Linked DNA regions of Homo sapiens: all the other regions are linked to region 2. Evidence: fine-mapped expression QTL. A gene starts in region 2. Each other region holds a variant in brackets. All regions are shown on one strand. Distances are between the middles of the regions.

Region 1 (2,753 bases), 45 kb before region 2:
AGGGATGGGCAGGTCATAGCTGCAGGGGAGAGGGTGGTTTCCACCCTGGGAGTGTGGGAGGTGCCAGGGGCAGAGGAAATGAACTTGAAGGGAGACGATCCTCCATGAATGTGTTCTGAGTATTTTCGGAGGGTAATAAGGGAGTGAATGTAGATTCCAGAGCCAAGGCACTGCAGCCCACCCAGTTGCCCTCCTCATTCCCCAGGGCAGTGAATCAGGGCTAAGAGTCATGGAAATGACCTTGGTCTTCCTCTCCAGCCCCTCCAAGGGGGAAAGACTAAACTCAGTGATACCAACTTGAAAAGAAGAAAATCCCACCAATGGGAGCAGAGTAGGCCAATTTGCAATTCCCAATAAGCCCTGCCTGACTGGTTTGGGACAAGCAGGCAGTGGGGGAGACCCTCCCTTCTGCACCCTCGCCTGAGTTCTGGGAGCCTCCAGAGGCTTCTTCTGATTCTTTTCCTTAGGCAGAGTTTCTGAAGAAACTCGGGGGGCACAGTGGTAACTCTCCTCTCCAGCAGTAAGGTCAGGAGGGTGGGTGTGGGAGAGATGGCCCAGCTGAGCCCGGAGCTGGTGCAGGGTGGTCGCTAGAGCCTCAGGCAACACTGGGTTAAGTCCGTTGTCAAGGGCCCCGAAGGATTAAGCAGGGCTGGAACGTACCATGCTCTGAATCCCTGCTTCGGTGATGATTCTGAAACTTATAATTTGCAATAAATCTGATGAACTTAGCCCCAGGCAGTTGGAATTAATAAAGTTTTCAGTAGATGTCCATGTTCCGTTTGAATTCTAGCTCCTGTTAACTCCCCAGTTAATCCTCATGTAATGTCTACCCAAAAATCTCTGTTCTCAATTTCCCACCCACCTTCTAACCTCAGGAAGCTAATGTTTGAAAATAGCACCCCAAATGAAGAGAACCCCAGCTTCTCTTCGATTGTTCTTTGTGGACCCCTTTACCCTCCCCGAGCTAAATCTGAATCTCCTTCATGCTGGGAGCTGCAAGCAGGAACCACAATCCCCTTCGGCCTGAAGGGAATGGAGGAGAATGGGGAGGGGCCATGCTATTTGGCCCGCAAGGAAATGACAGTGTCTGATCCCCCTTCCTCACCTCCCACTTCTCTACAGGGCTCCTGGTATTGTGACACCAGGGCAGAGGTGGGGACTAGGGAAGGGAAACCACAACTTCTAGCTCTGCAC[C/G]TTGGCTGTGGGCTGAGCACTGGGCTTACGAGGTGCTCAGTTAACTGAAACCAGCGGACCTGTTGGGACATAACACAGAGCACAGCAGCCTGTGAGCAGTGGCTTTGAAGTATAGTCATAGCCAGTTGTCCTCCGTGTCCCACAAGGATGTCTGTGGAATCTGGTCTCCACCTAGACTGAGGTCCAGACATGCTCGATTTCCTTTATCATGGTGAAAAGAGCAGGGGTCCCCAGTGCCTAGTGACCACCAGCAAGATGAGGCCCTTAGCGCTGTGGAGCCCCACCCACTAGGGTGTGTCTGGACTGCTCAGTGGGAAGGGGCAGGGCTGTCAGTCATTTCCCTCCCTCTGCATCATCACCGACACTCTTCTGGCAACCAGTCTTTATTCATTTTTTAAAAAAGGAAATCCAAATAAGTTAGCAAAAAAAAAAAAAAAAAAAAAAAATACAAAACAATGGCAAAACCACACAATGCTTTGTTAACAAAAGAAATCACCCCCAAGAGGCCCCAACCCCTTTTCCCTGCCTGTCCCCGGCAACTTCAGCACAGGAGACCTTGGTCGGATGGCAGCTTTACAAACAACACACGAAACAAAACAAAACATAAAACCACTGGAAGGTTCCCAATATTCACTGCAAAAGTTTGGCCCCCCAGGGACTTGGGAACAGAGGGCTGTTCCTCTCCCCTTCTTCTCTCTCAATTCAGGGCAGGCCCAGCCCAGCCACTGGCATCGGGAAGAGACCAGAACAGGAGACGTGCACAGCTTGTCCAGGTCAGGGCACTGCGTCTCTCAAACCGTTTCACTTGGGGGGTGGAATTAGAGGCCGCGTTATGATAAAAAGGAAGCTCCTGAGTTTGCCCCCTGAGCTGGGGCATACACGAGGGGGCGCTCTGGTCCCCTGCTTTACCTCCCTGGAAAGGGGATGCCCTCTCCTCTAAGGAGGCAGCTGAATGAGGGCGTCCAGTCCCTTGCTGGGGGGTGGGTTAACCTTACATGGATGAGGAAGGGGATAGTCTGGCCTATGGCACCCCAGAGCTGGCTTCCTAGCATCAGGGCAGCCTGGCTTAGGAGGCCCCTGCTACAGAAGTAGTGGCATCTGTGGCCAGCTTGGGGGGCTCGCAAGGATGCCCGGCTTGGAAGACAATCTCAGTTGGGCATGGTTTCATCTGGGAAGGCCACAGACACATCTTCCACTGTGATGCTGTCCACGATGGAGGTGAGGGAGTGCAGGTTGTGGGCATCTGTAGGGTCAGCCGTGAGCAGATGATCTGTAAGGGGAGGTGGGAAGGTGGTACCTGGGTGAGCAGTGGGGGTTCTTGAGGCCCAGAATAGAGGATGGGACCCTTGGGGTGACAGAGGTTTTCCAGGACAGATGAATGACAAAGCTCCGGAGTTCTACTCCCTAGTCCCTGCCTTTCCCCATGCTCTGTGAGTGTGTGTGTGTGTGTGTGTGTGTGTGTGTGTGTGTGTATGCGCCTCTTTTCTGAACTCCCCTAGTAGGTAGGGTTTGGAAGCAGCCACTCAAGTTGGAGCAGGATGGAGCTCCCCAGAGACTGG
Region 2 (2,753 bases):
CGTCAGGTGCTGTTGGGCGTGTTGACAAAGTCAGCAGGGGAAGTGCAAGGGGACGAGGAGGAAGGAGAGTTTACACTTCCTAATTTCTCCAACTAGCTTCTAGGGAAGGAATGTAATTTTGCTGTCTGAGGCACTGATTCCTTGCTCCCCCTAAAGGCAGAAATGGAAGTTATTTTTCCCCACAGAGGGCTTCCCCCTCCTCCTCAGAAGACTCAACTGCCCTTCCTCCCTGCCTCCCAGCTACCCAGGTTCCGGGTCCCACATCATTCCTCACTGTGATTCAGTGCAGCCCCCAATGGGAGCAACGTGCCCACCCTCCTCTGGGCAGAACCCTTTTCCTTGCATTCTGAGATCCAGTGAGGGGGGCAGTACCCCCAGAGGCCAGGTTGGGTTGTGGCTAGCTAACATTGGGGTCCCCAGCCTGACTCTCTTTGCCTTCCTAGAACCCTTGCCCAATACCCACAAACAAGGATTTCTCAGGTTGGGATCTCTGCGAGGCATCCATCCATGTCCAGGGTCTGGTCATTAGTTAATATCAGTGGACTGCCTAAACCGAAACTGGCAGAAGGTGGCCAGGGGAGGGGTCTGGACCCAGTGGAGAGAGTCAGGAGCCTGGGATTCTTATTTTGGTCCTGTTAGGATTTGCCCTGTGACCCTCCGGAAGTCCCTTGCTTCCCTGAGCCTGCTTCTTTATCTGTAACATGAGGGGATTGGACTGGATGCCTTATGGCTTAGCGCTGTGCTATGAAGAGGAAGAAGGAGGAAGGAAAAGGAGCGCAGAGCGGGTTACACTGCCAGGAGATCCTGGGAAGCTAGGTCACTTCCCTGAGCCTCAGCATCCTTATCTGCAAAATAGAAATTGCTAATAGACTAAAAGGCAATTCTGAAAGATGGATGAGAAAGGAATATAATGACTCAGGGTAGAGCCTGCAAAACAATATGGGATGAGAAGATGCAGGGACTGGTTTCATGGAGAGAGCAGGGTTTTAGGATTGGGGGAGGGTGCCAGGGCTACCGACTGCTTTGGGAGATCCCAGAGGGGGCATTCTGAAGTCCTGCAGAAGAGATGCTGTGCCGTGAGGGGTGAGGGGTCGCTGGAGGCCAGACCAGGGCTCCCAGGAGTCCTGCATTGAGAAGGGAGAGAGTGGACACAGGAAGGATGCGCCTCTGTCCAGTCCTGAGGCTGGGCGCACACACCAGGCCCTTCGAAAAGCTCACATTTTTTCCAGCTTTTCTCACCCAGTATCACTTCCTTTGTTAAGAGGAGGGGGTGGGGGAGGAGACGGAGGATGAGGAGGGAGGGGCTGGCGGGTGCCGCCGCCGCCCCCGCCCCCTCCCGGTGTGCGGAGCCCGATTGTCACTCAGCTCCTGCGCCGGGGGCGACAGAGCCGCAGGCGCCCGAGTCGAGTCCCAGCCAGCTACCATCCCTCTGGAGCTTACCGGCCGGCCTTGGCTTCCCCAGGAATCCCTGGAGCTAGCGGCTGCTGAAGGCGTCGAGGTGTGGGGGCACTTGGACAGAACAGTCAGGCAGCCGGGAGCTCTGCCAGCTTTGGTGACCTTGGGTAAGTCTGAGTCTCGGTTCACCCCTGGGGCTCCCCAATGGGGGTGCAGGAGAGGGTTGAAAGAAGAGACCGGAATGCCCCCTTGGGGCAGGCCATGGGCAAGGTTCCCCGACAGAGCTGGAACGGGACCAGAGGACTGCTAAGATCCAGGCACCAGACGGGTCTCAAGTGGGTGGGCGCAGGGCAGGTGCGGGCACGCTGGGGAATAGGGAGAAACGCCCCAGCCTTGTCCTGGGCTCCGTCCCCAGACCCACGTCTGCCACCCCAGTCCCAGGTGCGAAACAGGGGCGCTACCTCTTTAAAAGCGTCCGGGGCTGAGTCTCTGCCGTACCATGTGATTGCTTGAAAGGCCGGGCTGGGAGCGCTGCGGCGGGAGCCGGAGGACTATGAGCTGCCGCGCGTTGTCCAGAGCCCAGCCCAGCCCTACCGCGCGCGGCCCGGAGCTCTGTTCCCTGGAACTTTGGGCACTGCCTCTGGGACCCCTGCCGGCCAGCAGGCAGGATGGTGAGCTCCCTGCATCCTGTTCTGTGCACAGGGGTGGGCAGAGCCAGTCATGGGAGACCCCTCTGTGCGTGTGTCTGTGTGTGCGCGCGCGCTGGGAGCTGCCTCACACCTGATAAAAAAGCCAGTGGAGGAGTGAGCGCTGCTATTTTAAGTTGCTGAATGGAACCTCTGGGAATGATAAAGGGAAGGGACAAAGATTAGGCAGAGAAGGGTCCGGGTGCCCCTCCAGCCTGGGTAGGAGCTGCATGTGACAAGTGGGACACATCACAGGGTACCTGGAGTTCCAGGGCAGCCTGAGCTCCCTGCCCCTCCCAGACGGGTCTCCCCATCCCAGGCTTCCCTGACCACACAGGTGCTTGCCTCGTGCCCCTTGGTGCCCGTCTGCTGATGTGCCCAGCCTGTGCCCGCCATGCCGCCCTCCATCTCAGCTTTCCAGGCCGCCTACATCGGCATCGAGGTGCTCATCGCCCTGGTCTCTGTGCCCGGGAACGTGCTGGTGATCTGGGCGGTGAAGGTGAACCAGGCGCTGCGGGATGCCACCTTCTGCTTCATCGTGTCGCTGGCGGTGGCTGATGTGGCCGTGGGTGCCCTGGTCATCCCCCTCGCCATCCTCATCAACATTGGGCCACAGACCTACTTCCACACCTGCCTCATGGTTGCCTGTCCGGTCCTCATCCTCACCCAGAG
Region 3 (2,753 bases), 72 kb after region 2:
ATGATGGAGGGTCAGACACAGAAAAGGGGATGTGACAAGGGCAGCAGAGGTAGGAGTGATGTGCTCTGAAGATGAAGGAAGGAGCCACGAGCCAAGGGATGCGGGCAGCTTCTAGAAGGTTAGAAAGGCAGGGAAATAGATTCTGCTCTGGAGACTCCAGAAGGAACACAGCCCTGTGGACATCTTGATTTTAGCTTTATCAAACTTATTTTAGGCTTGTAACCTCAAAAAACTGTAAGACATTAAATATGTGCTGTCTTAAGCCATTATAATTTGTGGTAATTAGTTATAGCGGCCACAGAAAACTAATACAGAGATTGTTTTCTCCATTGACAATGAGGAAGCAGAGAGCAGGTGACCTTTCCAAGTCACTTGGCTGCTAAATACAGAGCCTGTACTGGAGCCCAGTCTCTAGGCTTCCTTTGACCAGGCATGGCCCAAGGCAAACCTGAGTGCAGGGAGTGTGAGGACATGCCTGAAAGTGACCTTTCTCCTGCTAGGCAAGGGCCTGGAGGAGGTGAAACCTGCGTGGTCTTCAATGCCCCTGACATTTGAAAGAAAGTGCCAGCTCCTCAATAAAAACATGCTCGAGGCAGACCTACCCAGGTTGGCACTGGATGAAGACCTCCCTGGTGGGGAGAAAGAAGCAGCTGGATTGCATGATCCCTACCCTGTCCCTCGGATTCACCAAGATGCACATTTCCCTTGAGAGGTTGTAGCCAAGGTGGTCTCAGGGGCACTGGTCACCCCTTAACACTCTGGCCCAGGAGGTGGCACAGTCCTCCCCCTGAAAAGCAGAGCCTGAGCCAAGGCATTCAGATAAGACTCAGGGGAGGCTTGAGGGTGAGGCAGGGGAAGTGCACGCTTTGAGGTGGGTCCTGGACAGTCAGACGTTCAAGCTATGCTCGACTCCTGATTCCATACGGAGGGCGCCATCTGTTTAGGGACCCCTGTTGAAAGATGCACCCCTGCTCCCAAGTCGGGGCCCTCTTCCATCTCCCTAAGGCTAGTCTTCTGAGCTCTGGTTTCCAATAAAGATACAACCTTTCCCCAGGGATTGGAGCTGGGCACCTCCTCTTTGTGGAGACAGAGCTCTCTATCTACAGACATGACCTGACTCATCACTCAGGCCACAGCTGAACCGAGAGAATATAACAGTCCCCCAACATCCACATCACTTCCACACTTCCACTGTTTGGGTAAAGCATTACATTACTCTCTGGAGCCCAGAGTCTTTTGGCTGAAAGACTAATTCACTCCATTATTCATCCTGAGGGGCAAGGGAGACTTGCTATGGGTGCCAAGTGCCCAACACATGCTATTCCAGTCACAACCCGCCCTGCCGAATGCTGGAATGGAGGTGTTGGCCTTATCCCTCTCAGTAGGTGAGCAAACGGAAGCTGAGAGAGGATCAGTGCTTTGCCCAAAGTCGTGCACATTTTATGTGGTTGAGCAAGACTTGAACTGAATTCAGCTCTTTCAACACTGAGTGCG[A/G]GGGTTGTTTAAGTAAGGCTGCCCTCATGGGATAAAAGGAGAGTGGGAGGAAAAAGAGAGAGAGCCAATATTGTAAGAAAATTCATGAAACACAGTGGGACAATAGGACAGAACAGTTGAAACTGGGACTGTCCTAGATAGCTGGTATAGATCTTGCCAAGAAAGGAAGTCAGAAGCTAACTATAGACTGAGGACCACGGGTGTAAGAACACGGTCAGTCCCTGGATTCTGCCACTTCTCCTTGTTGGTAATTTTCCATTCTCCCCACTGCTCCCCTGCAATGACTAGCACATAAACCCTGAAACTGAAAGGGACAGCTAGGAAGCAGATAGCCAGTCTTTGTCCAGTTCTGCAGCTATTTTAGGGAGAGAAAGAAACTCAACAATATGGTGTTTATGAGGAAAGTTTTGAGAAAACGTAAAAATAAGCGGAAAGGAGAGTGAATCTTTGGTGGCTTAGAAGGATAAACTAAAGAGCTCACAGGAGTCTGCCAGGGACTAAGGGCAGCATGTGTTCATTCTTTCAGGAAAGAGTTACTGAGCCCCTATTAGGTGCCAAGTCCTGGGCTAGGGTGGGGAGAGTGAGGAGTGGAACCTCCTTTAGTTAGGACAGTCAGGGAGGCTTCTCCGAGGAGGTGATCTTAAGCAGAAATCTGAGGGATGAGAGGGAGTCAGCTACCTCAAGAAGAGAGAAAATGATCCAGGCAGAGAACACCATATGCAAAGTCCTGGAGGTGAGAAAGAGCTTAGTGTGTTGGAAAAAAAAAAAGAGAAAAGCACAAGCAAGCTGACCAGCTGGCTAGAGTAGTTTGGGGATGTGGGGAGAGACAAGAGGCCCCGGGGAGAGAGGCAGGTCTGTGTCCTGGGGCCTGTGGAAACCACAGAGGGGTTTTGTCCTCTGTGCAATGGGACACCACTGGATGTTTAAGCAGGTAGTCCAGGATAGAGTTTATGTTTTGGAAAGTCACTCTAGTGGCTCTGTAGGGAATAGATTTGTGGTATGGCAAGAGTGGAAGAGGCATGAACATAAGCAGCTGTTAAAGAGGTCCAGGCAAGAGATGCGGTGGCCTGCCCTGGGCTGGGGACGTGGAGGTGGAAAGAAGGGTGGACTATGGACATTCCTTGGAGGGAACATCCGCACACTTACAGATGAGTTGGATGTAAAAGGATGAGGGAATAGAGGGACCAGGAACCACCCAGGGGGTCCTACCTTTAGCAAGGTGGACAAGGTTGTGCTAATTGTTTAATGTGAGGAATTCA

Direction of the effects. Positions count from the first base shown, and alleles are read on the strand shown. Sizes are in standard deviations (SD) of each study's normalised expression. Not every link is listed here.
For the expression in fibroblasts of the gene that starts at base 1,360 in region 2, allele A in region 3 goes with a lower level than allele G (moderate effect, 0.58 SD a copy in GTEx).

The links.
Region 1: its variant is fine-mapped to the expression of ADORA1 in whole blood (TOPMed, PIP above 0.99). The same link has a PIP of 0.9 or more in blood mononuclear cells.
Region 3: its variant is fine-mapped to the expression of ADORA1 in fibroblasts (GTEx, PIP above 0.99).

The regions. Positions count from the first base shown.
Region 1 is chr1:203,081,568-203,084,320 of GRCh38, forward strand. MYOG (myogenin) reads right to left here. Exons shown (of 3, transcript NM_002479.6): 3 at 1,562-2,464. The coding sequence ends at 2,343. It overlaps MYOPARR (myogenin promoter associated myogenic regulatory antisense long non coding RNA), which reads left to right and starts at 2,228. Exons shown (of 3, transcript NR_160550.1): 1 at 2,228-2,412. The variant C/G (reference allele first, on the strand shown) is at 1,195.
Region 2 is chr1:203,126,367-203,129,119 of GRCh38, forward strand. It overlaps ADORA1 (adenosine A1 receptor), which reads left to right and starts at 1,360. Exons shown (of 4, transcript NM_000674.3): 1 at 1,360-1,562; 2 at 1,912-2,066; 3 at 2,419-2,753. The coding sequence starts at 2,476. RefSeq lists an enhancer at 1,084-2,064.
Region 3 is chr1:203,198,769-203,201,521 of GRCh38, forward strand. No RefSeq gene overlaps it. Among named protein-coding and RNA genes, the nearest start is that of CHI3L1, 13 kb to the left of the region's middle. The variant A/G (reference allele first, on the strand shown) is at 1,495.